Linked DNA regions of Homo sapiens: region 1 is linked to region 2. The links come from fine-mapping of genetic effects on gene expression. A gene starts in region 2. The other region holds a variant in brackets. All regions are shown on one strand. Distances are between the middles of the regions.

Region 1 (8,319 bases), 32 kb before region 2:
ACAAAAAATTACAAAGAATTCAACAATTTAAAAGTACAGCCCAAGGCAACCTACAGAATTGGAAGAAATATTTGCAAATCATGTATCTTATAAGAGATTAATATCCAGAATATAGAAATAACTCCTGCAACTCAACGACAACACAAAAATCCAGTTAGAAAGTGTGCAAAGGGAGCTAGGCGTGGTAGCTCACACCTGTAATCCTAGCACTTTGGGAGGCTGAAGCGAGAGGATCACCTGAGGTCAGCAGTTTGAGACAAGCCTGGCCAACATGACAAAACCCTGTCTCTACTAAAAATACAAAAAAATTAGCTGTGTGTGGTGGCAGGCGCCTGTAATCCCAATTACTTGGGAGGCTGAGGCAGGAGAATCTCCTGAACCCAGTGGGGGGAGGTTGCCATGAGCCGAGATCATGCCACTTCACTCCAGCCTGGGCTAAAGAGCGAAGCTCCATAAAAAAAAAAAAAAAAAGAAAGAAAGTGTGCAAAGGACTTAAATAAAAATTTATCCTGGCTGGGCACAGCCAGGCACAACTACTCAGAAGGCCGAAGCAAAAGAATCACTTGAACCCTGGAGGCAGAGGTTGCAGTGAGCCAAGACTGTGTCACTGCACTCCAGCCTGGGCAACAGAGCAAGACCCTGTCTCTAAAAAAAAGAGAGAGGCCAGACGCGGTGGCTCATGCCTGTAATCCCAGCACTTTGGGAGGCCAAGGCAGGTGGATCACCTGAGGTCAGGAGTTCGAGAACAGCCTGACCAACACGGTGAAACCCCATCTCTACTAAAAATATAAAAATTAGCCAGGCGTGATGGCGCATGCCTGTAATCCCAACTACTGGGGAGGCTGAGGCAGGAGAATGACTTGAACCCAGGAGGTGGAGGTTGCAGTGAGCCGAGATCAGGCCACTGCGCTCCAGCCTGGGCGGCAGAGAGAGACTCTGTCTCAAAAAAAAAAAAAAAAAAAAGAATTAGGGACAGTGTCAAGTCCGTCCATTCTGGCCACAGTGTCCAACTTCAGGGACAGTAGGTGGCTTTTGGGGCACAGAGCCAGAGGCTGCAGTGGGGCCAGGCGTGGCACCCAGTGTTCAATGGTGGCAGCGGCCGATCGCTCCCGTGGCCTGACTTTGCCTCGGGTTCTGGGAGCTGCACCCTGTTTCTGTGGTTCTCCAGCCTTCCTGGTACCTCCTGAATCCCTTCCAGCCCCCATGGATAAAGTTAAGTGCCTCCCTCTCATGTGCTCCCTGGAACCACCTCCCTCGCGGCCTCATCAGCTAAGGTCTTTGTCCCCACACCACATGAGCACCCACTGAGGGCAGGGACAAAGCTTCATCTTGTCCACTTCTCTATCCCTGGGCCCAGCTCCAGCCTTACATGTAGAGAAAGTTCTCGTTGTGAGTGAATGCATGGCTCTTTGGAAACAGAAACAGAACCAGGAAAGGATTGACCCAAAGTCCGCTGCAGAGATTGAGCTCCCCCAGCCCCAACAGGGCCCCCCGCTACAGAGGCCTGGGGAACAACCCCAGAAGGGAAATCAGGAACCAGCCCGGGAATGGAATGTCCTAGATCTACCTGAGATCAGGACCCTCCTCCCCTTCCCAGCATGCAGTGACCTGCAAGAGTCACACAGGAGGGAGTCCTGGGACCATTCTCCCTCCTAGAAAAAAACCCTAAAAGACAAAGCTGTAGCAACTGCCTTAGAAGGACAGGCTGAGTGGCCGGGCGCGGTGGCTCATGCCTGTAATCCCAGCACTTTGGGAGGCCGAGGCAGGCAGATCACCTGAGGTCGGGAGTTCAAGACCAGCCTGACCAACATGGAGAAACCCCGTCTCTACTAAAAATACAAAAATTAGCTGGGCGTGGTAGCAGGTGCCTGTAATCCCAGCTATTTGGGAGGCTGAGGCAGGAGAATCGCTTGAACCTGGGAGGCGGAGGTTGCAGTGAGGGGAGATCACAGCACTGCACTCTCCAGAGCCTGGGCAATAGAACGAGACTCCGTCTCAAGGAAAAAAAAAAAAAAAACAGGCTGAGCTCCCTGGCTTGTGGGGAGAGAGCAAGGGGCCTGCCCAGAGCTGAGTGATCTGGGATGATGGGTGCAAGGGAAGATGACCTCCCTGCAAATTAATGAGGCAGCTTTCTGTTCATAAACCACCTGCCATGACAAGCCTGGCCTGTTCCCAAGACAATGTCCAGGCTCAGAGCAAGCCAGATCCAGAACAGTTTCCAAACTACATTCCAGGGAACCCCAGTGCTCCACAGGCATTGCTGGGTGTGCCATGGGGAGCCTTGAATTAAACACATATAACAATGCAGGACTCCTCAGAGCATTTAATGCGCTGAGGCCCTTGATGACTTTCCAAGAGGCAGCACAGTACACGGCTGATGACAACATTTTTGCTGAGCATCTATCATAAACTTCCAACCTCCTTGAGCTCCAAGGAACATAGCTTGCAAATGCTGCTGTGGGCAGCACCCCACTACCTGCCACTGAGAAACTGAGGTCCCATCTCTTAAGTCTCACTCCCACCCTCTGCTGGGGGCAGTGGGGAGCCAACCTGTCCTCCCCTTGCGGGGCTCTGCACACATTGCACACGTCTCCCTCTGGGGAAAGGGGTGCCAAGGAACTTCTGGGCCAGCTGAGCCAAAATACAGACTTGGAGTGTGAACTGGCCAAGTCACTGCCTCCTCCCTGAGGGTCCCTCCCTTTGGCACCCGCCACCTTATCTCCAGAGAGGCCACCGTGGCACAGAGCCCCAGGCTCCACAGGTGGCTACTGACCGTCACCCACCTCTGGGCCAAGTCCACTCTCTTTTTGTTTTCTTTTCTTTTCTTTTTTTTTTTTTTTTTTTTTTTTTTTGAGACAGAGTCTTGCTCTGCCCCCCAGGCTGGAGTGCAGTGGTGCAATCGCAGCTCACCGCAACCTCCACCCACTGGGCTCATGTGGTTTTCCTGCCTCAGCCTCCCAAGTAGCTGGGACTACAGGCGCGGGCCACCACTAAATCTTTGTATTTTTTTAGTAGAGATGGGGTTTCACCATGTTGGCCAGGCTGCTCTCGAACTCCTGACCTCAATTCATCCACCTGCCTCGGCCTCCCTAAATGTTGGGATTACAGGTGTGAGCCACCACACCCGGCCCCAAGTCCACTCTCATTCTTGCCCTGCCCCCTGTGGGCCACAGGACAGCCCTCTGTAGTAACCACTGAAGTCTGGTAAATGAACAACCTCAGCCCCTTGGAAGTCCCAAGAGATCCCAGCAGCTTCCCCTGCCTTGTCACCGCACCTGAAGAATGGTGGTGTGTGGTGGAAGGAGTACAGCCCTGCTCTGGGCCATCGGCTACCTGCATGTCCCCTCTGCTGGAGCCACAGGCCCCTCTGTTGGGCCAGTGTCCACATCCCACACCACAGCCAGGCCAGGCTTCTTTAGAAGCTCCCCATCACTGAGCCAACTTCCTCTGCCAGTTACACATATCACCCAGATGGGGTGATTTCTTACTGCAGAACACTTTGTTAATTGACACACCATTGAACTGAGCTGATGACTCCCGTGACTTGGTATCCTTAGTCCCTGATATGTTTTGGCTGTGTCCCCACCCAAATCTCATCTTGAATTGTAGTTTCCATAATCCCCACATGTAGTGGGAGGGACCTGGTGGGAGGTAATTGAATCATGGTGGTGGTTACCCCCATGCTATTCTCATAATAGTGAGTGAGTTCTCATGAGATTTGATGGTTCTATAAGGGGCTTTCCATCTTTGCTCATTCTTCTCTCTCCTGCTGCCCTGTGAAGAAGGACGTGTTTGCTTTCCCTTCTCTCATTATTGTAAGTTTCCTGAGGCCTCCCCAGCTCTGGGAACTGTGAGTCAATTAAACCTTTTTCCTTTGTAAATTACAGAGTCTCAGGTATGTCTTTATTAACAGTATGAGAACAGACTAATACAGTACCAATATCTTTTCCTGATTCACTCATGGCACCTGAAGATGGGAAGAAGTAGCACAGACACAGCTGTGATTTCCGGCCCCTCTATGAGCTGCATGCTGACCCTTGGACATGAAGATTCTCTCTCTTGGCTCTGGAAGGTGCCAAGAAATAAAATGATAAATGGAGATGCAGCCTGGCTAAAGGACAGTTCAGCAGTAGGGTGGACTTCAGGGTTGGTTCGATCCAGCAGCTCAGCTGTGTCCTCAGGACTTGACCTCTTCCCTCTCTCCTCTGTCATCCATAGCCTCAGCTGGACCCTGAGGTATGGTGTCCTTGGGGTGACAGGCTGGCTGCCAGCTGCCATTAGGGCTAGGTGCTTCCTCATCTGTGACCAGCAGAAATGGGTGAGCATCTATCCCAGCATCCCGTGCATTCCAGCAACTGACCTAGAGCAAGCTTGGAGGGACCAGAAAGCACAAGTGGGAGGAACAGGAGCTGGGTAAGCTACACACACTACACAAAATCACAGATCAAAGCCACTTGGTCCTGGGCCAGGCTCAGAGTCCATGCTCAAATATCAGCTACCACTTTTATTCTATGTAAGTCAATATTTGGGCTAATAATGAGCCCATCTTCCCTTGAAGCTAACAGTCTAAGGGATGGTGAGATGACATAAAAAGACACCTGGAGTCTCCACCAATGACTGGCCTCATCATCACATGCAAGACCTCCCCGTACCTTCTCCATCTGCAAAATGAGGGTTAAAATATCTCCTCACCAAACTCACAGGAGAAATCATGCTTTATAAATGCAGAGATGTTGGCCATGAGGCTTCTGATCCTTGCTACAGGCTTTCAGATCTTTATTCTGAGCATTGGCAACAACACGTTTCTGAGAACATCTCCTTTGGCAAATGGTAGGTCAGGCAGAGCTGCTTCAACAGAAGATGTTTTTGCTTTCAAAAAAAAAAAATTGTGTATGCCTTTTAATCCAAATGGCTGAATTGCTGATTCAATCAGCAAACATGGAACAGACTGAGAAAGTGCAGCGTGAGCTCCGAGACAGCAAAGAGGGCCATGAACTTCAAGGATGTTTATGGAGCGATTGCTGAAACCAGCTTTCTGAAGAGGTAAGTCTCCACCAGGCAACAGGGAGGCACGATG[C/T]GGGAGTGCCGTGGGATTTACGATGTTCATTAAGTCCATCAGCTTCCAACTCCCTCTGCAACCTGCATGTCCAGCTCGGCTACCCGGGGCACAAACAAGCTCTCCAGCTAAATTACCAAGATTCTTAGTGCCCGGCTGCACACCCACAGAGCACAGCCCACCTCAGCACCTGCCACCCCTGGGGATTCCAGGGCATGTTGAGTGTCTCCCACATGCTCAGGTCCAAGCCCACACCTGGCTTCCACCTGGCCCCATCCTCTCTGCATCCCCTGCTTCTGCTGGCCTCCAGTGTTCCCAGGCTGCCAGTCCTAGAGAGTCAAGGTTAGGCTAGGGTTGGGGCAGAAACACACGACTTTGTGCTGTCCCATAGCTGCACTGTTCTTTGTCACCCAGGCCAGAAGGGACACTGCCTGAGCCCAGAAGTTTGCTACCACTCCCAGAAACAGATCCCCAGGCCCCAGCCCAGCCGTCACTTCGCAGCATCCACCTCCACCATTCTTGCTGCCCCTTCCCCTCCCAGGGCACCTCTGCACCAAACGACTTCATTCTCCTCCTCCAGTTCTGAGAGATAAAACCAGCGGGCATGCCCGTTCCTGCAAACAGGACCAAGCCAACACAAGGCCCCCAGGCCCACAAAAAGCAGGCTCTGTTCCCAGTACAGATGCCTCAGGGACACCCTGCTATATCCATGTCAAACTTCCCTTTATTCATGAATAGAGATGGGAAGTGAGGCATCAGGTGTGCTCAAAAGCTTTGCTATCGGTTAAGAATTGCACCTGGCTACAAGCTACAGAGAATCAAAATAACAGTGGCTATAATAAGGGAGAGGTTAAATTTTGCTCTCATGTGAAAAGAAGTCTAGAGTTAGCCAGCCCAGGGTTGATACAGCAGGTCCACAGCCATCAGTGACCCAGGCTCATTCTATCTTGCTCTCTGCCATCATTAACATGAGGCTCCCATCCTTGGGGCTACCTCATGATCCCAAAATGGCTACTGCAGCTCCAGACATCACATCCACATTTCAGGCAGCAGAGAGTAGGAAGGGGCAAGGCAAAAGGACATGCCTCTCAGCTTAGCCTCCTTTGGAGAGCTTTCCCAGAAACCATACTCAATAACCTTTGCTTACATCTTATAGGCCTATTTCTGAAAGGCTAGGAAATGTGATATTATAAAAAGCCCATTGACACCCAACACTATAGCTTTTGTGTTGCTAAGGAAGCTAAGGAAGACAGGAGTATAGAAAATACCAGCCTTGGCCATACTTTTTTTTTTTTTTTTTTTTTTTTTGAGACAGAGTCTCGCTCTTCCGCCCAGGCTGGAGTGCAGTGGCACGATCTCGGCTCATTGCAACCTCCACCTCCCAAGTTCAAGTGATTCTCCTGCCTCAGCCTCCAGAGTAGCTGGGATTACAGGCATGCACCACTATGCCTGGCTAATTTTTGTATTTTTGGTAGAGACAGGATTACACATGTTAACCAGGCTGGTATGGAACACCTGGCCTCAAGCGATCCGCCCACCTTGGCCTCCCAAAATGCCAGGATTACAGGCATAAGCCACTGCACCTGGCCAGCCATACTTTCTACAGAGCTAATAAAACTAAGAGGATAGGGGCCCAAACTAATCTCCCTCCTGGATGCTTGTGGAGAATAATACAACAGTGATTATGACATCAAAAAAGAGGAGGCAAAGTGTCAGATGTTCTCAGCCCATTCTACACCTGGGATGCAGCACTGTTTTGTGGTGCTTACCTTAACAAATCTGCTATCATATTCCGCTGCTGACAGCCGGTGGTCTACTGGGACCTCAGCGTCTTCATCTCTTGAGTGTTCACACAATTGATTCCTCCTCACCCATCTTTCATTTGTGTTCTTTGCTTTTCTCCTTGAAACAGTTTAATTTCATGGGCTGCATGATGATGTTTTGGACAGTGTGGGACCATATATTCCATGGTGGTCCTATAGGATTATAATGGAGGCTGGGTGTGGTGGCTCACACCTATAGTCCTGGCACTTTGGGAAGCTGAGGTGGCCAGATCACTTCAGGCCAGGAGTTCGATACCAGCCTGGCTAACATGGTTGGGACTTGGGAGGCCAAAGCAGGAGGATTGCTTGAAGCGAGGAGTTTGACTACAGCCTGGGCAACATAGCAAGAGGTTGTCTGTATGCTTTTATTTTTTGAAAGAAAGGAAGGAAGGAAGGAAGGAAGGAAGGAAGGGAGGGAGGGAGGGAGGGAGGGAGGGAGGGAGGGAGGGAGGGAAAGAAAGAAAGAAAGAAAGAAAAGAAAAATAACAAAAATAAAAGATTATAAGGGAGCTGAAAAATTTTTCTCATCTAGTGATGTCATTCATAGCCATCATATCATCATAGTGCAATGTGCCACCTTTTCTATGATTAGATACATTTAGATACGCAAATACCATTCTATTCCAATTGCCTCTGCTACTCAGCACTTCCTGCCATACAGGCTTGTGGTGTGGGAGCAATCAGCTGTACCATCTAGCCTAGCTGTGTTGCGGGCTACCCATCCAGGTTTGTGTAAGTGCACTCTGATGTTCACACAGTGATGAAATCACCTAACAATGCATTTCTCAGAACGTGTCCCCATGGCTAAGTGACTCATGGCTGTATTCTGGAATCTTGTCATTCCAGACCACAGTCTTCACATTGAGGTACCAAGTTGTGGATCAGAATGGAAAGCTAGGCTATGATGAGGGACAGTGCGCTGTCACATGACTGACATGATTTATTTCACAAAGACAGCAAATGGAGCTGCCATGCCACCTCCAGCAAAGAGAGCCCGGGGCTGGCGTCTATGGAGCTCTAGGCTCTGCAGAGTCGGAGCGAGAACCAGATCCTTGGGGCAAAGAGAGCTAAAACGGATTGCAGAGGAAAGCGAACCACCACACATCTGCTAGAAAGAAATATCTCTTAGGCAGGAGATAACCTTGAGAGGCAGCATAACCGCTCAACCACTGTGGTTAAGGGCTTAGTTCTCAAGTAGGGAGGCCCAGGCTCTAGGGCCAATGCCTGTGGATGCCTTTGTGTGACCTTGGACAATTTACTTTCTCTCTCCAAGCCTCATTTTCTTCATCCACAACATGGAAACAATTGCAGATGATGATAATGTAGAACCTGTTCATGAAAGGAAATTATAGACAGTGCTGGGCCCGGTGCCTGGCTCCTGGTACAGAGAAGGATTCAGTAATAACATTGGCCATGACTATTAACAACAGCAGCAGCAGG
Region 2 (8,319 bases):
GCCAGATTCACTCTGCACTGCACTCTAACATGTGTGTGCTCCTAACAAGTGAGCAAACACCCATGTGTGCTGATCAACCGTCCATCTGAATGACAGGCACACAGACTGTACAGGGACGGGGACAAAGAACAAAATGCCTGGGTGGGTGCTAAAAGCCATAAGTGTGGGTTTCCGTACTGATTTGGACCAGCAGGAGATCTATCTAGACCCAAGGTCTATTCCCAACTCGGCACCATTTACTGTGCCGTCGGGGGCAGGTCACCTGCCTTCTCTGGGTCTGTCCAGTGAAAGGACCGACCAATCCATTCTCAAATCCCTGACAGCCCCAACAGCCAATGAACCTAGAATCCTTTCTTTCAGGAACACATCTGCCAAGTTTCAGTGGGGATGGATGTGAAGAGAAACCTAGCTGACACACACTTGCTTTCTTTCTCTGGGGGGATTTCCAAATAAAGTGAAACTGGCCAGGCACAACCTCAACCTGGAACAGCAGCCCCACCTGGGTATGCACCAGGAGGTATGGGGCCCTGAGTCAGCCTCACCTGGAAGAAGGGATGGTTCCGGACTTCTTGTGCCCCCTGGGGCCCCGCGCCCAATCGCTTCTTAGGATCCTTACAAAGCAGCCGCTGCAGCAGGTCCTGCGCCACGGGCCCGATCCGAGGGGGGAAGGGAGGGGAGCACTTCAGGATCCGTCTGGGAGGATTGGGGGGGTGTCAGGGGCAGCAAGCCCCCCACCCACAGCCCTGCCCAGGCAGGCCCTGCAGCCCTCTGGCCGCCCTCCACGTCCAGCCCTACTCACCGAGACACCTCAGCCTGCGTGTTCCTCTCGCCCTCCAGGGTGAAGGGCGAGGCCCCCGTCAGCAGCTCGAAGAGCAAGATGCCCAGGCTCCACCAGTCCACAGCCTGCCGGGTGGAGCCGGGGTGAGGGCCTGCATCTCCCCTGCCTCACACCCCACCTTTCCACCTCCCCCAGCCCCACTTCCCTGCCAACCTACCTTGCCATGCCCCGTCTTGCTACGGATGATTTCGGGGGCCATGTACTCGATGGTGCCACAGAAGGAGAAGGTCCGCTCTTTCTGGGAGGGCAAGAGGTCCTGCTTAGATGTCGAAACCTCTCCTGTGCCCCAGTGCCCCACAAGGCCCAGAGTAAGACTCGCTCAACTTGTGAGGTTGGAGAGCTGAGCTGTGGAAACTTCTTGGAGCTATTCACTTCTGCAGCCCCAGAATGCAGGCCCAGAGCAGGAAGAGGCAGGAAGGAGAAGGATTGAATGGGGCACTGCAGGCAGAGGTGGCCTCCACTCACCTCCTCCGTCAGGAACTCCTTGCTCAGCCCGAAGTCCGTGAGGACAATGTGGCCCTCGGAGTCCAGCAGCACATTCTCCAGTTTCAGGTCTCGGTAAATGATGCCGAGCTGGTAGGAGCAAGAGGGGTGCTGAGGCTTCCTCCCCGAAACCCTCCCCAGCTCCTCCAGCTCCTGGCCCTGCTCAGGATAAGGAGACCCCCCAGAGAAAGTCATCTGCCTGTAGAGGGGGTCTCCAGGGCAGAGCCACTGAATAAGAAAGGCCATTTAAGATATAAAACAAAGAAGGAGGGCCCCGTGGATCAGGCCCCAAGGTCCCAGAGAGAGGAAAGTCTGTGTGAAGAGCTCCATTTCAAGGAGGCCTTAGGAGCCAGGCCGTGAGGTTTCCATTTGAGGAAGTTCTGTGAACGCAGCCCCGAGTTCCCTGAAAGAGGAAAGCCCCTTCGAGGAGGTGCCAGGGGAGGGGACCCCACCAGGCAACGTTGAGGCTTCCTGCAAGGGGTCCAGGGGAAGCAGCTCCAATTCCCACCCAGCTCACCACTGGCCCCCCAGGAAGCCCAGGGGGAAGCCTGAGGCTGCCCTGCGTGCAGATTCCTTCCAAGGCACAGACCCAGTTTCCATAGCAACAGCCTGCGGCCAGGTCTTCACCCACCTTGTGCAGGTGTTCCAGGGCCAGCACGATCTCACCCCCATACACGCGCACCTCAGCCTCCTTGAAGTACTGGCGCTGGTAGAGGTGGGTGAACATCTCCCCGCCGCTCACATAGTCTGGGAGGTGCAGTGGAAGTCAGGAAGCAGCCCCGTCAGGTGGCCTCGCCTGCCCCCAGCCACCCCAACCCCGTTGGGATGTGGTGTGCGCTCACCCAGGATGAGGTGCAGCTTGGCATCCGTCTGGAAAGCGTAGTGCAGCGTGACCAGGAAGGGCGCCTGGCGCACCAGCTCCAGCACCGAGCGCTCGGTGCGCGTGTGCTCTTGCGTCTTGGCGCGCTGCACCAGCGCCGCCTTGCGCAGCACCTTCATGGCGTACAGCTTCCCCGCGTCGTGCCCGCCCGCCTTCCGCACCAGGAACACCTTGCCGTAGGCTGTGGGAGCAGCGAGTGGGTGGAGGGTGGGCTGTGAGCGGGAGATTGGTGCAGGCTTGGGGGGTGGGGGCGATGCCAACCCAGGAGGGTGTGCAAATGAGGCGAAGGAGCTGGGGCAACAGGCAGGTGTGCAAAAAGCTGGCAGAGCCTTCTAAGGAAAGGGTGTGCACACCCCGGGAGGGTGCCCAGCAAAACCAGGGAAAGGATGTGCAAACCAGGCTGGGGAGCATGCATCTCCAGGGGGCCTGCTGCGAGGCATGGGGGCGGGGCATATGCAAACCTGCGAGAGATCAGATGGATGTGAAAAGATGCCAGTGCAAGGAAGGGAGGCAGAGGTGTGCACCTGGCTGGGGAAGGGATGCGCAAACCAGCGCTGGGGCATTTGCAAAATGTGGGAGGGGGATCCCATATTGGAAGAAAGGGAGGAGCTATGCAAATCACTTGAGAGGGGCGCCAGTCCCCCTCCCCAGGGTGTTGGCAAATCCAGGGGGGTATGCACGCACAGGACCGTGGAGGGAGGAGTGATGTCAATGTGGAGTGCCCTGGAAGTGGGCATGCAAACTCTGGCGAGGCAGGGCGGGGCAGGCAAGGCAGGCTGTGCCGGGAAAGGGTGGGGGGCCTGCTCAGTGGCCTGGCCCAGGCCCAAGAGTGAGCAGGCAGGAGGTCAGGGGCACCGCGCCTGGGACGCCTGCCCGGTGGATGGGGGTCCTCACCTCCCGTGCCCAGCACCTTGAGCAGCTCGAAGTTCTCCACGCTCACCTTCTCCTCGTGCCCGGTCAGGTTGGCTGTGGGCACAGGGGGCGAATGAGCCCAGCCGGTCCATGACCCGTCCCGGCCTGCCCCGGGCAGCCGCAGTCAGGCCCCACACCCACCTTCTGTGATCCGCAGCTCCACGGCGCAGCTCTCATCGTCGTCCTCGTCCCCCATGGCGGGCGGGTCGCTGGGGCCCGCGCGGCTCGGGCTCCGGGCGGCGCCGGTTACATGGCGGCTCCGGCCGGGGCGGGCGCTTCCTGGTGCCGCCTCCGGGGCCGAGGCGGGCGCCGGCACCGCCTCCCGGCTCCCCGCCCTGCGCGGCCTGAGTCAGGCGGCTGGAACGTGACAGCGCCGGGCTGCCGGTGGGCGGCCGGCTGGGGCCGCCCTGTCTCCCGAGCCCCCAGGCCAGGCCTCAGGGCCGTGCGCTCCGGGACCTTACTCGACTCTCCCGGGAACTGGAAACACCCCGTGGGAGCCATCCCTGAGCCCGTGGGTAACCTGGAGCCTCTGGGGCATTAGTCCCCAAGCCAGGAATCTGCCCGGGAATGCCGGCTGCAGCCAGTGGCTGGAGGACATTAGGAGTCTGTGCCCCAAGGTGGGGGACGAGGTGCCTGGTGCTGGGCAGGCTGAGAGGGGGTCTGGATCCTGGAAGTCACCCAACTCTCAGGCAGTGGAGCCCACCCCACTCCATCGTCCTGGGGGTGGCCAGCAGGGCCCCTCTCCCCAGAGGACTGGCCTTTGCAAGGAGGAGCCTCATCACCAAGAGGGGGCTGGAGCCCGGCCTGGGACCCCATGGCAAGGAGAGGAGTGGCCAGTTTTCTGACCAGCTTTCTGTCGGGGGTGCCTGCAGAAGCACTTCAGCCCCCAGTCACCGTGCAGAGCCCACCAGGTGCCATGCGCACCTCACGTGTTCTGCTCCTGTTGTCTCCTAGCCTGGTGCAGTACCCAGCTTAGAGCCCTGAGCAGGCCTCAAGAAGAGATGTCAGTGCCACACGGGGCTGCCCCCTCTCCCCATGAGGCCCAGGGCCCCTGCTGACTGGTCCTCCTGAGCCCCTGCTCCGTCTTCTTCCTGCCTTTCCCTTCCTGACCACCAATGGGGCCACCTAGCAGAGTGGGACAGCCATGAGGCCCCACACCCTGAGGCCGGTGGGAGGGGCTCTCAGCTCCTCTGCCAGCTGGAGAGGCCAGGGTGTCCACCCCACGCCCCTGTCCTGTGAAGCCCTGGCTGAGAGGAGGAGGAACTCAAGCTGCTGCAGGTCACACCTGGGAGGCCGGACGGACCGTCCCTCCCAGCTCTGCACCCCCCAAGTTCAGGCTGCCTTATCTCAGCCCTGGGCAGCTCCACCCTCCCCTGGGTGGCCCCAGGTACCCTGACTCACATCCTGCACCCCAGCCGAATTGCCCCGCCTCTCAGGCATCAGGCTAGAGGCCCTGGTCAGAGAGCCAGCGTCCCTCCCACCTCTCCTGGCAACCCCTGGCATTAAGTGATGCCCCGCCAGGCTGAGAACTCCCTGGGGAGGGGGCTCAACCTCAAGGAGGGAGGGGAGATGAGTAGGAGGAGGATGTGAACAGAGAGAAGACAGTGCCCTGGGAGAGGGTGGGGGCGGGGCAACAGGGGCTTCACTGCCCCACACCCCTGAGCCCAGATCTTAGACCCCAATCCCTGCTGGCTACCCAGGATGTCATCCCCTCTCCACCTCACCAGGACATCCGGGCTTTGGCCGGCCGGACTGGCCAAGACCCTGGAGAAAGGCCTGTGCTGCCCTGTCCAGGCAGGGGCCCTCTGCCCACAGACCCCCACCAACCAGCAGGACTGGGGCGGCATGTGTCCTGGTGCCCTGAGGTACCCAGTGCGGCCAACAGACAGAGCAAGACTCAGGAGGCTGCAGTTCAGCTTTATTCTCATGCCCCTCATGTCCAGTTAAGGCTCAAGATCAGCCCAGGCCACAGTCCCCCAGCACTGGGACTCAGCTTCCCACCTGGACAGGGCAGGGGGTTCTCTTGCCAACTCCTGCCAGCCTCCTTCAGCTGGGGGATCCCCCAGAGACCGCTGCCTCAGCGGGAGCCACCTGGAAGAACCAGAACTCCAGCCTGGAGCTGCTCGTGGGGGCCAGCCATCCCCCCTGTCCACACACTCGTCCCAGCTCCATCTCCGGGCCCCGGCGCTGACCGTGGAGGATCTCAGGGCCCAGGCCTCCTTGTCCAAGGACTCCCCTTGGGGTCCCTGGCTCCCTGAGCTCTTGGGCTGCCTGGGGCCTCCGCTGACACTCCAGTGCCGAGAAGGCTGCACTCCCAAGCCTGCTGTTCCCACGGTGTCACTGGCTGAGGGATGGGGTGAGGGGACGTTTCTCCGGTTCCTGTACCTCAGGGCCTAGAGGGAAAGGCTCAGCTGAGATCTGCTTCCCTCAGGAGGACTCCCAGAGTCCCAGGAGGCCCACAGGCTCGAGCACCTTCTGCCCACCCCCGACCTGCCAATACCCCCCGCTTCCAGCTGCACCACGCCTGCTGTTCCCTCAGCGGTTCCCTCTGCCCAGAATGCTGTTCTCAGGTATGTCCACACGACAAACTCTCCCCTCCAAGTCTTTGCTCCAATTTCACATCCTCTCTGAGGCCCACCCCAGCACCCCAGTTACTAAAACTCCAACCAGCCTGCCCAGAGCTCCTGAGCTCCTGACCCCTCCCCTGCTCTCCTTTCTTCCCAGAGCATTAGCGCCTCCTGATGGTCCAGCCGGGTCTAGGGCTGAGCTGCCCAGGGCGGAGCTAAGTAGGTGAGATGGGGTTGGCCTGTGACGTGCTTCAAAGACCTACTATGTTTTTTTGTTTTTTGTTTTTTGTTTTTGAGACAGTCTCACTCTGTCACCAACGCTGGAGTGCAATGGCGTGATCTTGGCTCACTGCACCCTCTGCCTCCCAGGTTCAAGCGATTCTCCTGCCTCAGCCCCCTGAGTAGGTGGGATTACAGGCATGGGACACCATGCCTGGCTAATTTTTGTAGTTTTAGTAGAGACGGGATTTCACCATTTTGGCTAGGCTGGTCTCTAACTTCTGGCCTCAAGTGATCTGCCTGCCTTGGCCTCCGAAACTGCCAAAGACTTACTATGAAAAAAATCACGTCTGGCTGGGTGGCTCACACCTATAATCCCAGCACTTTGGGAGGCTGAAGCGGGCGGATCACCTGAGGTCAGGAGTTCGAGACCAGCCTGACCAACATGGTGAAACCCCGTCTCTACTAAAAAAAATAATAATAATTATACAAAATTAGCCTGGCGTGGTGGCCCATGCCTGTAATCCCAGCTACTTGGGAGGCTGAGCCAGGAGAATCGTTTGAACCTGGGAGGAGGAGGTTGCAGTGAGCCAAAGAGTGAAATTCCATCTCAAAAAAAAAAAAAAAACATCACGTCTAATAGCTCATTCATGATTTTTACACTGGCTACATGCTGAAATGGTAATAGCGTAGGCATATTGAGTTAAATGTTATTAAAATCCATTGTACCTGTCTCTTTTCACTTTTTCTGGTAAGCCTACTGGAAAAGTTAAAATTATCATGTGGTTCACACCATATTTCTAGTGGACAGGGCTGTTGTAGATAATAATTATTTTTAGGCAAATTGTTTACTATCTGCCTCCTCACACCAGAACGTTCCCTGCTGTGTCCCCTGCCAGCACGTCACCTGGCACTTGGTAAAGGATCATTGTCGAATGAAAGAATGGATGAATGAGGTTCTGCCAGGGGCCCCAGGCAGGACAAAGAATACTACTCCTTCCACAGTCCCCCACTCACCCTCTCGGTTGGCATCTGTTTCGTGTTCCTGCAGGGTCTCAGCGGAGTTCTCCCATCCCACACCAGGTCCTGGGAGGCACAAGGCAACCACTGGGCCCAGGGCCAGTGCGGAAGTGGACAGAGCTTGCAGGAGACACAGGGGACAAGAAGGAAGCCTCCTCCCCCAAGGAGCTGGTGGGTCCACAAAGAGTTGGGGGGCTGGCTGGTACAGTGACCCTTGTCCCTCACCTTTGCTGTGGGAGACGGGCGCCCCCAGGGGGCCTGGATGGCGCTGTCGGAATCGTTGCCTAGGGGTGTCCCCAGGGCTGAATGACTCAGAGCTTCGCCCCACCGGGAACCTTGAGCTGAGTTTCCGCCGCTGCCCGCCTGCCAAGGTCTCATCCCGCAGGCAGAGGGAGCTCTGGGCCCGGCGCATGGGTGCCGGGGAAGGGGACCCTGCAAGAGGTACATGCAGGGAGGGGGTGAGAGGAGGGGACGGGAGCTGAGGCTCCTGTAGGGAGGAGGTCAGAGAATGGGGGGAGGCTGAGGCTCACGCAGGGAGGGGGTCAGACAAGGGGAGGGGGTGCTGAGGCTCCTGCAGGAAGGAGGTCAGAGAAGGGAAGTGGGGGCTGAGGCTCATGCACGGAGAGGGCCAGAGGAGGGGAGAGGGAGCTGAGGCTCATGCAGGGAGGGGGTCAGACGAGGGGAGCGGGGGGGCTGAGGCTCCTGCAGGGAGGAGGTCAGAGAAGGGAAGTGGGGGCTGAGGCTCATGCAGGGAGGGGGTCAGAGGAGGGGAGGAGGCTGAGGCTCATGCAGGGAGAGGGTCAGAGGAGGGGGGGAGGCTGAGGCTTATGCAGGGAGGGGGTCAGAGGAAGGGAACGGGGACTGAGTCTCATGCAGGGAGGGGGTCAGAAGAGGGGGCTGAGGTTCATGCAGGGGAGGGGTCAGAGGGGGGGGGCGGAGGCTCATGCAGGGAGGGGGTCAGAGGAACAGGGCCCTGGATGGAGTAGAGGGGCCAGTGGGTGAAGCTGCCCAGGGCCAGGGAGGGGAGGTGCAGAGGTGGGGGAGAAGCCAGGCAAATGAGTGGGGCAGCAGGACACTGGCCCTGTGCTGGCCTTCATACTAACTCACTGCATGACCTTGGGCAAAAGCTTCCCCTCCCGGGGCCTCAGTCTCCTCATCTGCAGTCTAGGAACAATGACCTCTCCCTAGAGTCCACTGCACCTCCCAGATCCTGGGCTCCGCTGCGGATGGGGCAGGCTGGGTCGGGGACAGCACAGGCAGGAGGGAGGTGTGGGCCAAGGGTGACCCTGTAGGACCCAGGGAAAAGAGCCCCTGGTGGCATCAGGGCAGGGGGGGCAGGCCTCAGGGAAGGCCAATGGGGTCACGCATGCAGGCCAGGCAGTGAGGCAGGTGCCAAGGTG

The links.
Region 1: its variant is fine-mapped to the expression of RPS6KA4 in whole blood (INTERVAL, PIP above 0.99).

What each region holds. Positions count from the first base shown.
Region 1 is chr11:64,385,872-64,394,190 of GRCh38, reverse strand. LOC124902688 (a long non-coding RNA gene) reads right to left here and starts at 7,084. Exons shown (of 2, transcript XR_007062718.1): 1 at 6,826-7,084; 2 at 3,878-4,065. The variant C/T (reference allele first, on the strand shown) is at 5,078.
Region 2 is chr11:64,354,226-64,362,544 of GRCh38, reverse strand. It overlaps RPS6KA4 (ribosomal protein S6 kinase A4), which reads right to left and starts at 3,383. Exons shown (of 17, transcript NM_003942.3): 1 at 3,255-3,383; 2 at 3,096-3,167; 3 at 2,164-2,382; 4 at 1,953-2,068; 5 at 1,304-1,411; 6 at 996-1,076; 7 at 800-903; 8 at 543-693. The coding sequence starts at 3,309. CCDC88B (coiled-coil domain containing 88B) reads right to left here. Exons shown (of 27, transcript NM_032251.6): 25 at 7,145-7,351; 26 at 6,917-6,985; 27 at 5,011-5,506. The coding sequence ends at 5,451. RefSeq lists enhancers at 1,988-2,097, 2,831-3,358 and a silencer at 3,108-3,597.